Regions from separate parts of the Homo sapiens genome. Here region 1 is linked to region 2. The links come from fine-mapping of genetic effects on plasma protein levels. A gene starts in region 2. The other region holds a variant in brackets. All regions are shown on one strand. Distances are between the middles of the regions. Region 1 overlaps GXYLT1 (glucoside xylosyltransferase 1). Region 2 holds the start of GXYLT1 (glucoside xylosyltransferase 1).

Region 1 (8,339 bases), 19 kb after region 2:
TTGGCTGTTATGTTTTATTTTTCAGTTTAAAACACCATACAAGTAGTTTGGATTGAGGATTAATTTAAAAGCATTTAAAGATCTTCTTTTCCCTTTCTGCCAGTATTGGTGGCATTTTTATTATGTTTGAGGATAAGCAAATATTTTGTTTGTCCCAAAGGGATTTTGTTCTAGGGGTATATGTGTAGCCTGTGAAGAAAATTTTAGAAGACATATTTGTCTGTGTTATCTGAGGAGGGGATTTTATCAGGAGACTCTCCGACGGAAACACTGTTTCCCAATCTATAGTATAGTCTACCTTCAGGGTTTTAAAGTTCTATTTAAAATAATGGTGCCCTAAGTAAGGGAGAAATCAGTTTTCCAAAATCTTTATCATAGCAATTTGGATTTATAATTTTATTTGCTTTAAAATAGAACAGTAAGTTATCGTGTTACTGAGTAAATTCCTTGTTAGTTCCAAACCAAAATACTCACACAGGACTCTTATTTCTGTCTTACTCTGTTAGGTGTAAAGATTTCTCTCTGTGTTACTGGAATCCCTATTGGATGCTGCCCTCTGATGTTTGTGGAATGAACTGCTTTTGGGAAGCGGCTTTTAGGTAGGCACTTAATATTTAATTGGTAGATCAGTGTAGATAAGGTTAGATAGTTGATAATAAAACCTTTGTAATAGGATGTAAGAATGTTTCTTATGATATTATACAAATAATTTATTTTCTTATTGGGTTTTCTATTTTTCCCATTTTGTAGTTGTTATTGCTATTTTTTAGTACATACTGTGTATAAATGCTTTAAATTTTCTTAGATGTTATTAAGACAAACCACTGTTCTTAAGAGAATTTATGATCTAACTTTTGGTAACAGTTGATAAAGTGATAAACTAGGATAAAAATAGGCTTCTACTGACGTTTACAGATATATCTATATATATAAAATATGGCATTTATCTAAAAGCTTGTGTACTATAGTGGATGGGGACAACTGGAGAAGGATTATATTCGTTATTAGTAGAGAGATTGAATACTGGGAATAGGAGGATAAAGATAAGTATTTAATGGAGGAGCAGATGGAGGAGCAGCTCCTGGCTACTTCTTCCTTTAATGTTTATTGACCTTTTAAGTTACTGACTAGTTCGGCTTTATTCACTTCTCTGGATAATGAAGGTATTGGGTACTCTGACCTCTTAGGTCCCTTCCTGCTCTAATCTAGAATGAAAGAAACAGGTATTGATAAGAATACGATAAGGCAGTGACTCTCAGACTATCTCCCTGATACAGTGGCAGAGGAGAGTGGGGCAAAGGTTTGAAATGCTCTTCCCAAGAGTAAAATTCCTTAGAAGAGTATCTATTTACTGCGTCTTTATGATTCATTTAAATAGTCTAGGTTGGGTATGGTGGCTCACGCCTGTAATCTCAGCATTTTGGGAGGCTGAGGCGGGAGTATTGCTTGAGCCCGGGAGTTCAAGACCAGCCTGGGCAACAAAAGCAAGACCCTGTCTCTACAAATTTTTTTTTTAAATTACCCAGGCATGGTGGCATGCGCTGGCTTGGGTGGGAGGATTGCTTGAGCCGTGGAGGTTGAGGTTGCAGTGAGCTGTGATGACGCCACTGCTCTTCAGCCCAGAGCAAGACCCTGTCTCAAAAAAACAAATAAAATAAATATTAATTCTACTCATTATATTTGCCACACGCTGTGCTAGGTGGTAAGCACTGGACTCTTGGGTCAGGTTAATTGTGGCTCCATCCTTTTGGAGCTTACGTTCTGATGGGAGTTTCACACTAGTAAACCTGAAATTACAATAGAGTGTGACAAGTTGTTGCTATGATGAGTCATCTTAAAGCATCAGGGAAGACTTGGAGGGAGTGACCAGATGATGATCTGGAAATTAGCTAGTTTCAAGGACAGGAGGTGAAGTGTTTGAGATAGGAAGAACTTCATTTTTAAAAACTTTTAATTAAAAAATTTATTTTTAATTGACAATAATTCTATGTATTTATGGGGCATAAAGCGATGTTTTGGTGTCTGTATATATTGTGGACTGATTATATCAAGCTCATTAACATGTTTATCATCTTACATATTTATCTTTTTTTTGTAATGGGCACATTTAAAACCTATTCTCTTCGCAGTTTTGAAATAAACATAATTATCTGTAGACACCTTGCTGTGCAGTAGATCTTGAGAACTTATTCCTTCTGACTGGAAGTTTGTATTGTATTCTTTGGTCAACATCTTTCCATCACATACTCTCTCCCACCCCTTCACCTCCAGTGCCTGGTAACCACCATTCTCCTCTCTGTAAGAACTGCATTGTAAGTATCTATTAATTGTACATATTTGTAAATTCTTGCATTCTCAATACAGTATGCATCCCATGAAGAACTGGTGGGGAATAGGTTCAAATCAGATAGTTTAGTTATATCCTGTTGCTGTGGAAGAGATTGGGTGATTGAAATTTTAATATGAGCCAAGTAATATTCCAGCTTTTAAAAATTAACTTTTAAAGATAATCTAACCTTTCAGTTTGGTTATACTTTTGGATAATTGAAGTTTTGTATGTTTTCATTCTTACGAATATTTGCAAATGAATATAGTATTGACAAGAACCACTTTGCCTTGCCACATAATTCCACTAGCTTGAAGCTGGGTAAACTTGAAAAGTTCAGCATACTCTGATTTATACAACCCAGACCCTTTTGTAAATTACAGCGTGAGTAATAATAATCTTTCCTCCTTACTGACTGCAGGAGTGTCCCAGGGAAATTTACCTAGTCGGAATCCTGGACTCTCTGCTTACCATTCCTTTTGTTTTGGCTCCTCTAACTCATTTTCCTAATGCTCCCAAGTATTCCGTGGAATAAATCATATGTGGATGGATACATAATGTTGTAAGCCTTGTGCCTGTAACCTAAATTTGAGACTTCAGAAGTTATATGCCTTTCCTCTGTTATACTTTCTACCCGTAATATTGCATCCATTATATCATGCTATTACATTTAAAAAAAGCAAACATTTTGTGTCATATAATTATGTAAAAATTTCTCAAACTTAGTTTCTTATTTAGAACTAACGATTCCCTCACATTTAATCACCCTATTTCAAATATGCATACAAGCCCAAATGCCATACAACTGCCAAATCATTCTTGCCCTCCATCTCAGTATCTACTTTAATACTGGTAAAGCTTCTTTGGAATTCCCCTTTACTACCACTTTTGATGTCACATTCTGCCTGGCACCAGGGGGCCCTTAGTTGGGTACCTTACTTTCCCAACTTGAATTATTTGTATAACTTTGATCAAATATTATTTGGGTGATCATATTCTCCCAATTAATTTATTATACAGTGAACATAATATAAAAACTAAAATGGCCTCAACTCCTATTACAAGTGTTTTCATCATTCATATCATCATATGCTTTTACATAGTTGTGATTCTGGTGTAGACTAATCTTGAATTTTTTTTTTTTTTTTTTTCTTGAGACAGGGTTTCACTGTCTCCCAGGCTGGAGTGCAGTGGCATGATCTTGGCTCACTGCAACCGCTGCCTCCTGGGCTCAAGCGATTCTCCTGCCTCAGTCTCCTGAGCTGGGACTACAGGCATCTGCCACTGCGCCCAGCTGTTTTTGTAGAGAGGGGGTTTCACCATGTTGCTCAGGCTGTTCTCAAACTCCTGAGCTCAGGTGATCTGGCCGCCTCGGCCTCCCAAAATACTGGAATTACAGGCATGAGCCACCGCCCCCGGCCTAATCTTGAATCCTGAGCTTAAAATTTTAATACTTTTCAGTGTAGTATGGTCTTCATATTTCTCATGTCAATGGCAACACACTATTCCATTGCCTCTCAAAGTGCTGGAATTATAGACATGAGCCACTGTGCCTGGCTTTATGTCTTTAAAACAAAATCAAAAATCCCTGCAACAGTTTGTTTTCAATCCTCTCTTTCCCTTCATCAGCAAGCTTCTTTTGAGTACCTCCCTACTGGCTGGAGGGGTGTGGCTCACGCCTGTAATCCCAGCACTTTAGGAGGCCAAGGCGTGCCGATCGCCTGAGGTCAGGAGTTCGAGAGCCAGCCTGGCCAACATGGTGAAACCCCGTCTCAACTAAAAATACAAAAATTAGCCAGGCATGGTGGCGCGCAACTTTAGTTCAAGCTACTTGGGAGACTGAGGCACGAGAATCGCTTGAACCCGGGAGGGAGAGGTTGCAGTGAACCAATACCACACCGCTGCACTCCAGCCTGAGTGACAGAGTGAGACTCTGTCTCAAAAAAAAAAAAAAAAAAGTTCCTACTGGTTTTGCTTCTGGGTTTTGTTTGGTTTGTTTGTTT[T/C]TTTGAGATAGTCTCACTTTGTCGCCCAGGCTGGCGTGCAGTAGCACCACCAGGGCTCACTGCTGCCTGGACCTCCTGGGCTCAAGTGATCCTCCTGCCTGAGTCCTCTAAGTAGCTGGGACTACAGGTGCATGCCACCATAGCCAAATAATTTTTTTTTTTAATATTAGTGAAGACAAGGTCTCGCTGTCTCGCTATGTTGCCCAGGCTGGTCATGAACAACTGAGCTCAAGTGATCCTGCTGCCTTGGCTTCCCAAAGTGCTGGGATTACAGGCATGAGCTACTGTGCTCAGCCTTGGTTTTACTTCTTTTAATAAAAAGAACTTCACACCTCAGCTGTCTGCCACCTGACTCTTACTGTCATCACCCCACCTCTGAATTATTGTTCTGGGGCTTAATTTTATTTCTCTTACCCATTTGACACTGTTTACTACTTCCTTTTTCTGTCAGCTCTGTTAGCCTCTGGCTTTTGAGACCAGACCAGTTACTCAGCTCTTTGATCTCTCTCCTCCTGGACTCCTCTAACGCTGCTTTCTAAATGATCTGCATTTCTTAGGACTCTGCTCTTTTCTCTCCCCATTCCCTGAATAGTCACAGGATAATTTGTTTAACTGATAGCTCCAATTCAGAGTTCTTTTCTGAGAGCCAGACCTGTATTTCTAGTTGCATATTGGTCATTTTTACCTTTCTGATTCAAATGCCTCAGAGACTCATGTTCAAACCTGAACTCATGCTCTAGCTCCTCAGACTTTCCTTCATCTGTGTTTTGTATCATGTTTACAACGGACTTTCTCCACATGTCAGTCTACATTAACTCTTCTTGTCTCCTTTCACACTGTTGCTCCTGGCTGCTTGCTTCCTTCCTTCTCCCTTAACCGTTGTACTCATCATTTCCCAAACAATTATAGTCTCCTCTCACTGCTCACTTCATCTCCCTTCTCTGTCTCCTCTTGGTTATTGTATTTACCGCATTTGTTGTGACTGTGAATCTTCATCCACTTCTAGACCGTTAACTCTGCAGGCTGATACCATATGGTGTTATCATTTAAGTCTCATGCCTAGCAAGGTGTTTGGCAACCAGTGAGAAACAAATGATTAACAGGATCATTTGTCTGGGAAGCTTTCCCCAATACCAGGTTAGATGTTTGCGTTGTGAGCCTCTTTAGCAATCTCAGTTTTTTTCTATTAAAACAATTACCATGCTTTCTTATTCTTTTAAAAATCAGTCTTTTCACAACAGGCTACAAATTGTATAAGGTGAAGATTGTGGCTTTCTTGCCTACCCCAGTGCCCATATGAAAGGAGTTCAAATATTTTTTAAAAAGAATGAATTATATCACTAAATTGTGTTTTAAAAATTATATGGCTGTAAGCCTGCACCAGCATTGTGTGAGTGTACTTGGGGTCATCATAACCTTAGCATTATTGGGAATTATAATTTTATCACTTATTAAAATGATAGCTTTTTGTTGATTATTTGTTGAATGTATTTCCACATTTAGTTAGCTTTTTTCTTTTGTTCTGTATATCATCTATTTGATATTGATAGTTATCTATTGAATTTTTAATGTTTATTTTATGAACTCTTAGAATAATATGTTCGGTTTTGCCATTGATTGCAAATAAGTTTCTAATTTGTTTTTTTATTTTACTTTCATTATACAAACTCTAAATTTTAGAATTATCAAAATATCAGAAATATTTTGTTTTAATGTACTAATTTTTCTATGACTTTAGTTTTTAAAAAAATCAGTTCTTTAAAATATTGAATCTTCTTTATGGTGGGAATTGATTTTAGATTTGTGAATTCTGTGGTCATAGGTGAATTTAATATTAGCTGTATTATTTTGAGTAGTTCATACCAGTTTTAAGAGATATATTTTCACTGGTTATTTAAAATTATATTTTAGAAGTTAATACTTATATTTCATGTTGGATTTTTAGATTTTTTTAATGCTTTATATAAAAATCCTAGCTTTTTTTTTTAAGTATTTTGTTTTGAAAGTGTTTTATATGTAACTCATGAAAGTAATTTTGCCTGGTATGATAATTTAGCACAACTCTTTTTTTTTTTTCTTTCTTTTAGTCCATTATGTGTTGCTGGGAACAACTCTTTTAATAGTAAGAGAAAAAGGTGTTGTTTTTCTTTTTAAGCATAACAGGTTAAGCAAAAAAGCTTTCCATTTTGTTCAACTGCAAGTTTTTAAAGATAGCTTCATGGCAGTTCTTTTTTAGTTTTAGTAGATGGTTATTTGAAATTTAATTGTTTAATTTGACTTTATATACTTCAATGGTAGTTTGTAGTCTAATTATGTATCTCTTTAAATAGGGAATACTAATTTAATAATAGGCTATAAGAACACACTGGAGATCATACTGTGAAATAAAACAAAATCAAAAAAGTTATTATGATTCCTTTATAGCAGAAATTTACTTAAAATAAGAAGTCAATTCTTAAGACTTAGAAGTTTATTAACAGTATTTGCATCTAAATTTGTTATGTAAAGCATTCTTTTTTTATGATAAACCCCTACCTCCTAAATTTTTACTTTGATAAATTTCAAATATGCAAAGGTTACAAGAATAGTACAGTAAGCATACCATACATTTTTTACCTAGATATTTATTATTAACATTTTACCACTTTTCTTTTTCTGCCAAACCATTTGAGAGACAGCAGGCATTAGGACACACCCCTAAATACATAGATTCAGCATGTATCTCCTAAGAACAGGGACATACTTTAATACAGCCATAATTGTCACTTTAAGTTATTTAACACTTTATAGAATATATATTCCTATTCCTATTTTCTTATTTTCCTGTTAATGTCCTTTGTATCTTTTCCTCCCCATTCAGGACCCAGTCAAGGACCATACATTGCATTCAACTCAGGTTGAGTTAGTCTCCTTTATTCTAGAACTGTTCCCCAGCCTTTTTTGGGGTGAAAAGGGGTGCTGTTATTGGTATCTTTTGTGATATTTTTGTTTTTGTTTTGCAGAATGTCCCTTAATTTTGATTTGCCGACTGTCTACTTATTATTAGATTCAGGATTTTTGGCAGGATTACTGCATGGGATATTGTGTTCTTCTTTGGGCATGCTATCAGGAGACATTTGATGCCTTAAGTTTTAATATTATTAAGTTTGATCACATGGTTAAGGTGATGTTCTTGCATTTCTACACTGTAACAGTGCTTTTATCTCCTTTATAATATATGGGGGAAATATTTTGTTAGTACGTAGTTTTAGCATCCACTGATTATTTTTGTCCAGATTATCTGTTACAATGGTGATTGCAAAATAGTGAATTTTATAATTCTCTCATTTCTTCTGCATTTATTGGTTGGTATTCATCTTTAAAAAAAGAAGAGTTCCCTCTTCTTACCCCTTTATTTAATATCATTTTTTGACGATGTGTTCACTTTTTATTTATTTTTTTGAAAGAGTCTCGCTCTGTTGCCCAGACTGTAGTGCAATGGCATGATTCCAGCTCACTGTAACCTCTGCCTCCTGGGTTCATGCAATTCTCCTGTCTCAGCCTCTCGAATAGCTGGGACTACAGGTGTGTGCCACCATGCCCGGCTAATTATTGTATTTTTAATAGAGACGGGGTTTCGCCATGTTGGCCAGCCTGGTCTCAAACTCTTGACCTCAAATGATTCACCCACCTCGGCCTCCCAAAGTGCTGGGATTACAGGTGTGAGCCACCGTGCCCGGCCAGGGTTCACTTTGTAAATTTAATACACTATCATTCATTACTGTCATACTTTTCATACTCAGGTTATGCCAGCTTTAACCATGGGAACCCTCAGATATTATCTTTGAATCATCTGACGAATTTCTTCTAATTGTATATCTGTAGAAAAATAGGCTTGACTTTAAAATCTCCTCTTCTATTACATTTCTTTAAATCCAGATGGACTTTTCTTTTGTTCATATTGTGACCGAAAGAAAGATTTTTGTAGACCCTGGCAAGATTCCGCCATTCAATTGGGGCCAACATTATTT
Region 2 (8,339 bases):
CCCAAAGTGCTGGGATTACAGGCATAAGCCACCACACCTGGCCTATGGGTGTTTTAATTCAAAATTTCGTCATGACTAAATTTCCCTACAAATCTAGCTTTATATTTTACTGACAATTTTTTTTGTTTGTTTGTTTTTGTTTTGAGATGGAGTCTCACTCTGTCAGCCAGGCTGGTATTCAGTGGTGTGATCTTGGCTCACTGCAACCTCCACCTCCTGGGCTCAAGTGATCCTCCCACTTCAGCCTCCCGAGTAGCTGGGACCACAGATGCACAGCACCATGCCCAGCTAATTCTTGCATTTTTTATAGAGACGGGTTTTCACCATGTTGCTCAGGCTCATCTTGAATTCCTGAGCTCAAGTGACCTTCCTGCCTTGGCCTCCCAAAGTGCTGCGATTACAGGCATGAGCCATTGCGCCTGGCCGTTACTATTTTTTAAAAATAATATATTCTGTTTTACTAATCGGTATGCAGGGTTCTTGAAGTTTGAACCAGGGAGAAATAGAGGGACATCCAGAGGATATTCCTCGTTCTCTTTCCCACCTAGCCCACTGTACACTTTCCCTACCTTGTAGATGGAAATGTCAGCGAAATTCTGGTATCATATAGGAGGTTAAGGCATCCTCATTAATTAGTTTTCCACCGCTTTTCTTTTTTCAGTTTAAATTATTTATTTATTTTTTAATCTTTCACTACTTCTTTTTCTACTCTTGTGGCCTGTAGCAACGTGTTTTTAAGAATGAAGAGCATCACTTTACTCTTTCATCCTTCCTCTGACTCTTTCCCTACAGTTACTGGTCTGAATGAACACATAAAATGAGATTTTTGTGCAAACTAAACATTATTTTCCAACTTTTCCTCCAGTCCAACAAAGTCTCTAGGAATTGGACTGTGGAAAATGGGGAAATATACTAGAAGCCCACTAGCGGAGAGAATGAATTTTACTTTTAGCCTGAGTTTCTGATTCTTTGTGCTCTGCTACTAATCTGACTTGCATTTCACTGATTGTAAATGTTGTTTTAGACTCTAAGATCAGTCTGAAAGATTTTCATATAACATTGGTTCCCTTTTTGCTTTCAATTTGAATTTGTACCACTCCATTTAGTGCTTATTTGTTCCTAGTGAGATAGCATGGCGTAATGGAAAAGAACAAGAAATAGAAATCTTAGAGGATTTCTATCTGAATTTTGGATCTTATTATTAACCATGTGGTAAATGAACATTTCTGAATTTCAGGCTGTTTGCTTTTTTTGGGGGGGGATTGTTTTTATTTTTAAATTTTTCTTGCTATCTGTGGTCACATCTCTATCAGGCTCGTTTTTTTTTGTTTTTTTTGTTTTTTTTGTTTTTTTTTTAGAATAGAATAACATCTCCTACTTCATAGGAATGCTATAAAGATTAAATTAAACTTTTTTTTTTTTTTTTTTTTTTTTTTTTTTGTAGAAAGAGGGGTCTCATTATATTACCCAAGCTGTTTTTGATCTCCTGGCCTCAAGCAATCCTCCCAGCTCCACCTCCCAAAGTGCGGGGATTACAGGTGTGAGCCACCGTGCCCAGCCAAGGATTAAATTCCATTATGCATAGACCTTTATAAAATGGAAGTCATGCAAAAAGGTTTTTTTTTTTTTCCTGCAAAAAGAGTTTTTGAATTTTACTCTGAAAAGGTGTAGAATTTAACTTTCTCCATGTCTTTTTTTTTAAGGAATCAAGTACTTAAGGTAGAAGTGTAAAGAAAATGCTGAGCAGGCCCCCAAATCTGCTCTAGACTGATTTAGAGAAGACATTTTAAAAAAATGAAAATGGGAGCCGGGCGCAGTGGCTCACGCTGTAATCCCAGCACTTCGGGGAGGCCGAGGTGGGTGGATCACGAGGTCAGGAGATAGAGACTATTCTGGCCAACATGGTGAAACCCCGTCTCTACTAAAAATACAAAAAATTAGCCGGGCCTGGTGGCACGCACGCGCTTGTAGTCCCAGCTACTCAGGAGGCTGAGGCAGGAGAATCACTTGAACCCGAGAAGCGGAGGTTGCAGTGAGCTGAGATTGTGCCACTGCACTCCAGCCTGGTGACAGAGCAAAACTCCATCTCAAAAAAAAAAAAAAAAAAAGAAAACGCCCATTAATTGAACGCCTATTATATATCCAGGATGTACTAAGAGCTATACGAAAAATCAAGATTAATCTTTTAAATATAAAATTATTGAGATGTGGCTTAATTCTGAATCAGAGAATTTTCCAGATCATGGAGATCTCTATCTCCTAAACAACAAATATTGATAATTTTAAATTACTTTTTCTCCACCTAAATTTACCTATTTGATACGATGAATGAAGGTCAACATGGATTAAAAATTTGGATATCAGTCTATCATTAGAGAATTAAGAGACTGGTATAGAGAGAAAAAAATAGATTTAGGAATACATACCTTCACGCAGTACATGGAAGAAACACCTAACTGTTGTGACATCAAATATGTTAAAGCGCTTTCATTAACTTAATTTTAGGAATATCAAAATGCAACGTGTAAATCCGGTTAATAATTAGAGGGGATGCCAGCATGCACACAGCTCCTCCAAGATAGCCAGTTAAGATGATGTGTGAGTAATAGAAAAATCATTTCTATTTTTGGAATGGTTTATATAATTTTTCAACAGAAAATTACAGGATTAGAAGGAACCTAAAAGGATGATATGGTCCAGTACCCTGACGTCAATAAATGAGTGGCTATTTTTCCTGATTTGCTCTTTTCATAAAATTGTTGCAGAAATGAAAACTGCTTGCCTTCTCTTTTTGCCATTCCATTATTTTAACCATCTGTGGGTCAAGGAGTTATTCTTAATTATTACTACGTTTAGTTTCTTTGTTGAAATAGAGAAGAGTTATAGTTAGTATCTTTTAAATTAAACATTTTTTGAGTACTAGCTCTTACTCTAGTTTCTTGGTACCATATCTTTCAGCTTTCTCTCAAAAGGTATTTTCATTCTTATCAATGCTTTTCCTATCATTCTGGATACTTCGTTAAGTTTATCTTCATTTCTCTAAGAAGTGTAAGGTGTAGTGGAAGTATTAATTTAGTATACTTGTGGTTTCTATTTGCCTGTTTTCCCTTTGAGAGCAGTACACTCCTTTTATTTCTGAATACTCTGCATCAGAGCCCCTTGTCTGGCATGTAGAATATGTTCAATAAATGTTTATTGAATGCATAAATGTATGTTCTCATTCTCTTTACACATCTTGATAGCATGCTAATGTTCATTTTTTATCAGGTAAAGCAAGAAGGGGAGGAAGTTGAACCTTAAATTTGTTTAGTGACTTTATCATGGTCACAGAACCACTACTTTTTTGGTATAGGGAGCCAAGGATCCAAATGGAGACTGCTACTATTTTGCGCAGCATTTCCCCACCTTGTATCTCATGGCCAAACTTTTCAACGCCCCAGATGCAATTTCAGCAGTTAAACGCATGATTTTTCCCCATGAATGTGTGTTCGTGTGTGTGTGTATTTTTAAGTATCCCTTCCCTCACTTTTTGGCACTGGTGCTGCTTTCTGCCTCCAATCTCTCCTCTCTCTGTTTCAGCCTCCACACTACAGCCAGAATCTGCTCTCTAAAATGCAATTGTGATCATGTTACTTCCCTATTTAAAAACCCTTCAATGGTTCACTAATGTCTTGCAGATTAAATTCAAACTCCTTGGTGTGCTAAACAAAGCACTCAAATATCTGGCCCCTTCTACGCGCTTATCGCTCATCATACCCTCTCTTGCATTCACTTAGCTGGTGGTATCAAACTTCTCAACAGTTCCCTACACAAGAGCCTGTTTATTGATCCTTCAGCCTGGAATTACTTCCCTTACCCGACTCAAGACTCTAGCGCCACCTTTGCTATGAAGTCTCTCTTGACCATACTCACAGATAGAACTGATTGTTCCTTTGTGTGTATGCCCACACCCTTACAGGCCTGGATCTTAAGTCTGTTATCACTGCGTTGCGCTTATTTACAAGTATCCGCTGTCCCACCCACGCTCCACTTAGGCCTCTTTATACCCCTAGGTACTCACACAGAGCTTGGCACAAGTGATGCTTTATAAATGGTCAATGAATGAACGTAGTGGAAACACAGAAGAAGAGGGAGAAGAACTGGGGAAGAAAGAAGCTCTGTGGAGAGAATACTAATTGTTTTGCACATGAAAATAATGAGTTGTGAGGGAGGTCAAAAAGGTCAAAGGGAAGAGCCCTGCCTTACAGGAACTCACTGTCTGCTGGGAGGCAAGAGGTAAGGTCCGCATACCAAACACACGAAGCAATGAGCTTATCGGGGTGAAAATGGCTCGTGCACATTATAGTATCACAGAAACTTAGAGGCTGGGGGAGGATGGAGAGGAAACTGGCCTAGTCAAGTGTCTTCTAAGTGTTAGGCGGTTTTCGAGCGTTAAACAGTTTAATCTTTACAACCACCCCATGATGAGGATAGTAGCTCCATTTTAGGGACGAAGAAACATGCTCAGAGAATTTAGGTTGCCCAATGTCACAAACTACCATGTGGAAGGACCATAATTAGAATTTAGGTCAACTGCCTCCAGAGCCCTGAGGCTTTCGCTCCCCCTCTCTCGGCGGTCGAGACCCACAGGGCTCCCATTCACCTGCGCGTCGGCCTGCGCTAGCTATAGCCCTCAGGCGCGCCGCGTTCCGCGCACTCACACCACCCTCTGCGCGCCAGCCCTGCGTCCCTCCCACGCGAACTGCGCCGGCGCGTCCAGCCCTCCCGCCCGGGGGAGGGGCGGGGTTGCGTCGCTGCCGCTGACCCTTGAGCGCGCGGCGGCAGAGGCGGTGTCCAGGCTTCCGGGCGGGTAGTCCTTCGGCTCCGGAGCCGCGACTGCGCTCGCCTAGGTGGTGGGCGGGGAGGGAAGGAAGGGAGCGGGCGCAAGGCGGCGGCGGCGGCTGCGGGTGAGGAACTTGTTGCGCCCGCGGCTGCGCGGTGCCCCTCCCTCCGCTCCAGTTCGTCGGGGCGGGCGCGGCGGCGGCGGCGAAGGAGGAGCGCGGCCGGGGCGATGCGGCGCTACCTGCGCGTCGTGGTGCTGTGTGTGGCCTGCGGCTTCTGCTCGCTCCTTTACGCTTTCAGCCAGCTCGCCGTGTCCCTGGAAGAAGGAACGGGCGGCGGTGGCGGGAAGCCGCAGGCCGCGGTGGCTTCCTGGCTCGCGGGCGGCGGACGCGGCGCCGTGAGAGGCGCCGGCGTCGCGGGCCCCGCAGCGCATCCCGGCGTGTCGGACAGGTACGGGCAGTTCCCGGTGTGGGGGACGCGGCGGGCGCGGGGCGCTGGGCGCGGGCTCGGCCTAGCCCGGGCTGCTCGCCGGTGGGTGCCGCGTCTCCCGCGTCTTTCCTCCTGTCTCTGACCCCTCACTCATTTCCCTCCTTCCCCTCCGGCCGGGGCTAAACCTGCGCTGCTCCCGCCTGAGAGTGTCCTACACTTTCTGTGTTTATCTTTTGACCCAGTCATGCGCCCTTTAAAGCAGTTAGAAATTAATTTTCAACTTTTTAAAAAGAGGGTTCTTTGAAAATAAGAGGTGTCCACAAAAGCCTTACTGCTGCCTGGCTAGTGAGAATTTCCTCTTGTTTCAGTGGAGTTCAAGTTGAGATATTTAAACATGAGGCTGGCGCCCTAGTTCAGTGTTTAAGGATTGTGTGTGTGTGTGTGAGTGTATATGTGTGTGTATTTTGTCCCTCATGCTGATTTTCCTGTGTTAACGCTTACACTTCTAAGTATTAGCCATGGTTAGTTAAATTTGGAAATGGCATTTGTGCGGGTTGTGAAATTTTCTTTTGGAAACACTCAGTTTATTAAGAAACTTAGAGCAAATTAAGAAAAATGAGCGATACTTGGCGTGCTCAAGTCTGTTGTTGGATGGGATGGAGTTACCTTTCTTGACAAATTGGTATTTAAAAAGCGACGTAATGACTTAGGACGTAATCACTGCCAGAGTGGGAATCAACATGAGATTTAAATAGAAAAAAAATGTTTCTGTCAACGCATTATGAATGCTTGAAATCTGAGCGTTTGCACTGCCTTGCAACATGGACACTTCCACCTTATGTATGGGCATCTCTCTGGGAATGACCTGAAGTGCTCCCTACCAAGACTTGGCAAATGCTGCTTTGATATAGAGAAGTATAGGGTTTGTCGGAAGAGGGAGTATAGATCAGTTGTGGGCTGTTGTTTAACATCATTTTGAGAGTCGATGGTCATTCCCAGAATGAAAGGGGAAAGTTTGGGCAGAGGAGCAGCGTGGAAAGCGGACTTGTCATGTTTTTACCCTGAGATTTGATTACAGTCAGGGTAATTCCTACATCAGGACCCTCAGTTGTCTGTCCTGGGAGAAAGCAGTCACTGAAGACTTGAATGAGCTCGTGAAAAATGACAGGTTGAAGCTAAACTGTTTATGGCCTAGTATGTTATTGTGAAGCATTTGCAATTATGGAAAAGGAATTATTTTTATATGGGGTAGAATTGTAAGGAAGCAACATTTTAATTAAATATTGAATGAAATTAGACTGATGTTAACATCACATTTTTAGTGCCTTGGTCTTAGATATTTTATTTTGTGACAGAAATTTACAAATTTTGTTTGCTTGACCAGCTAATTTTAATAAAATTATTTGAAATTTTCGAAAATAGCCTCAGTTTTAATAAACATCCAATATAATCATTACTGAAACGTTAAGTTTTATGTGTCAGGATTGAGTCAACCGAAATACTGTACTTTTTTAGGTCCTTTGAGTAGCATTACTCTTTATTTTAAATGAGGCGTACATCTAAGTTAGAACTATAGGTGTATTTATCTCTCTTTGTAAAAATGTGATGAAGAACAGCATGTCACCACATTTGCGCGCATAAGAAACCATTTGGGCAGGGGAACAACGTGGAAAAGTTGGATTGTGAAGTTTTACTCTATGGTTAGATTAAGATCACGCAAATTACTAAGACCTCAGGACTCTATTTTGTATATCGTCATTTATAACATCTTTATAGAAATGTCATAGAATTAAATCAACTTTTGGCAACGCTCGGTAGCTCACGCCTGTAATCCCAGAATTTGGGGAGGCTGAGTGGGGATGATTGATTGCTGGAGGCCAGGAGTTTGACACCAGCCTCGTCAACAACCCATCTTTACAAAAAATAAAAAAATTAAAAAAAAATTAACTGAATGTGGTGTTTCACACCTGTAATCCCAGCACTTTGGGAGGCTAAGGTGGGAGGATCACTTGAGCCCAGGAGTTCAAGGCTACAGTGAGCTATGATTGCACCAGTGTAATCCAACCTGGGTGACAGAGCAAGATCCTGTCTCAAAAAAAAAAAAAAAAATTAACTTTTTTGGCCACCATGAGATACGGTATAGAAATCCCTAACCTCTTCATGTATAAATCATTTGGCCAAGATCCAAAGCAAATCAGTGTTGGAGGAGGATTAGAAACTGTATCCTTGGAGTGTTATACAAGAGCTCTTTCTGTAAAGAAAGATAAGGGTCTAGTTTAGATAGTGGACTCAGTGGGCAATGGGGCTATGGGGCAAGCCAGCAGCTTCCTCTTTTCAGTAGTACTTAGGTATTATTGCATTTTTGCCTTTTTTGATAACATCTTACTTGAAAGATTATAACTATTTCTCTCTTTTTATTTTAAACACGGGATCTAGGTTTGTACCCAGTAAGTTCCATTGGTCAGATCTTATAAAAACTATTCATGGTATAGAATTTCATGACGACAAAAGACTTGGAGTCCTTGAAGTAAGAACTTTAAAATGAAAGGAACAGTTTTTCAGTGGAATCTCTTATCCGTTAGTGTATTCTGTTTGAAGCCATGATTTTAATAATCAGAAAATACATGGGTCTTGTAGTCAGATAAACCCGTGTTCTCAGTATTCTGGCTCTGGTTGCTGTGAGACTTTGCCTAAATTGTGTCACATGCCTGTGTTTTAATTTCCTCACCTGTAAAATGTAGATAATACTTAAATTTTTTTAGCTTTAGTAGGGTATAATTGATAAATAGAAACTATATGTTTAAGGCATAGAACTTGATAGTTTGACATACATATACATTGAGAAATGATCACAGTTAAGCTAGTTAATATCATCACTTCACATAGGGTTTTTTTTTTTGTGGTGAAAGCACTAAAGATCTACTGTCTTAGCACATTTTAGGTATACTGTACACTTTGTTAACTATAGTCATCAGGCTGTACATTAGATTACCTTACTTAATTTGTAATAGAATTCTTAGTTGTCTTTGATGAAAATTCAGTAAAACTATCTCAAGCAAAACATATTTATAGGCTTATACAGTTTTTGA

What was found. PIP is the posterior inclusion probability: the model's chance that the variant is causal. Protein levels are from the aptamer-based SomaScan assay of Sun 2018.
Region 1: its variant is fine-mapped to the plasma level of the GXYLT1 protein (Sun 2018, PIP 0.95).

What each region holds. Positions count from the first base shown.
Region 1 is chr12:42,122,019-42,130,357 of GRCh38, reverse strand. It overlaps GXYLT1 (glucoside xylosyltransferase 1), which reads left to right. Exons shown (of 8, transcript NM_173601.2): 2 at 507-599. Among named protein-coding and RNA genes, the nearest start is that of GXYLT1, 19 kb to the left of the region's middle. The variant T/C (reference allele first, on the strand shown) is at 4,330.
Region 2 is chr12:42,141,358-42,149,696 of GRCh38, reverse strand. GXYLT1 (glucoside xylosyltransferase 1) reads left to right here and starts at 4,823. Exons shown (of 8, transcript NM_173601.2): 1 at 4,823-5,271. The coding sequence starts at 5,051. RefSeq lists an enhancer at 4,396-4,465 and silencers at 4,626-5,125, 5,206-5,435.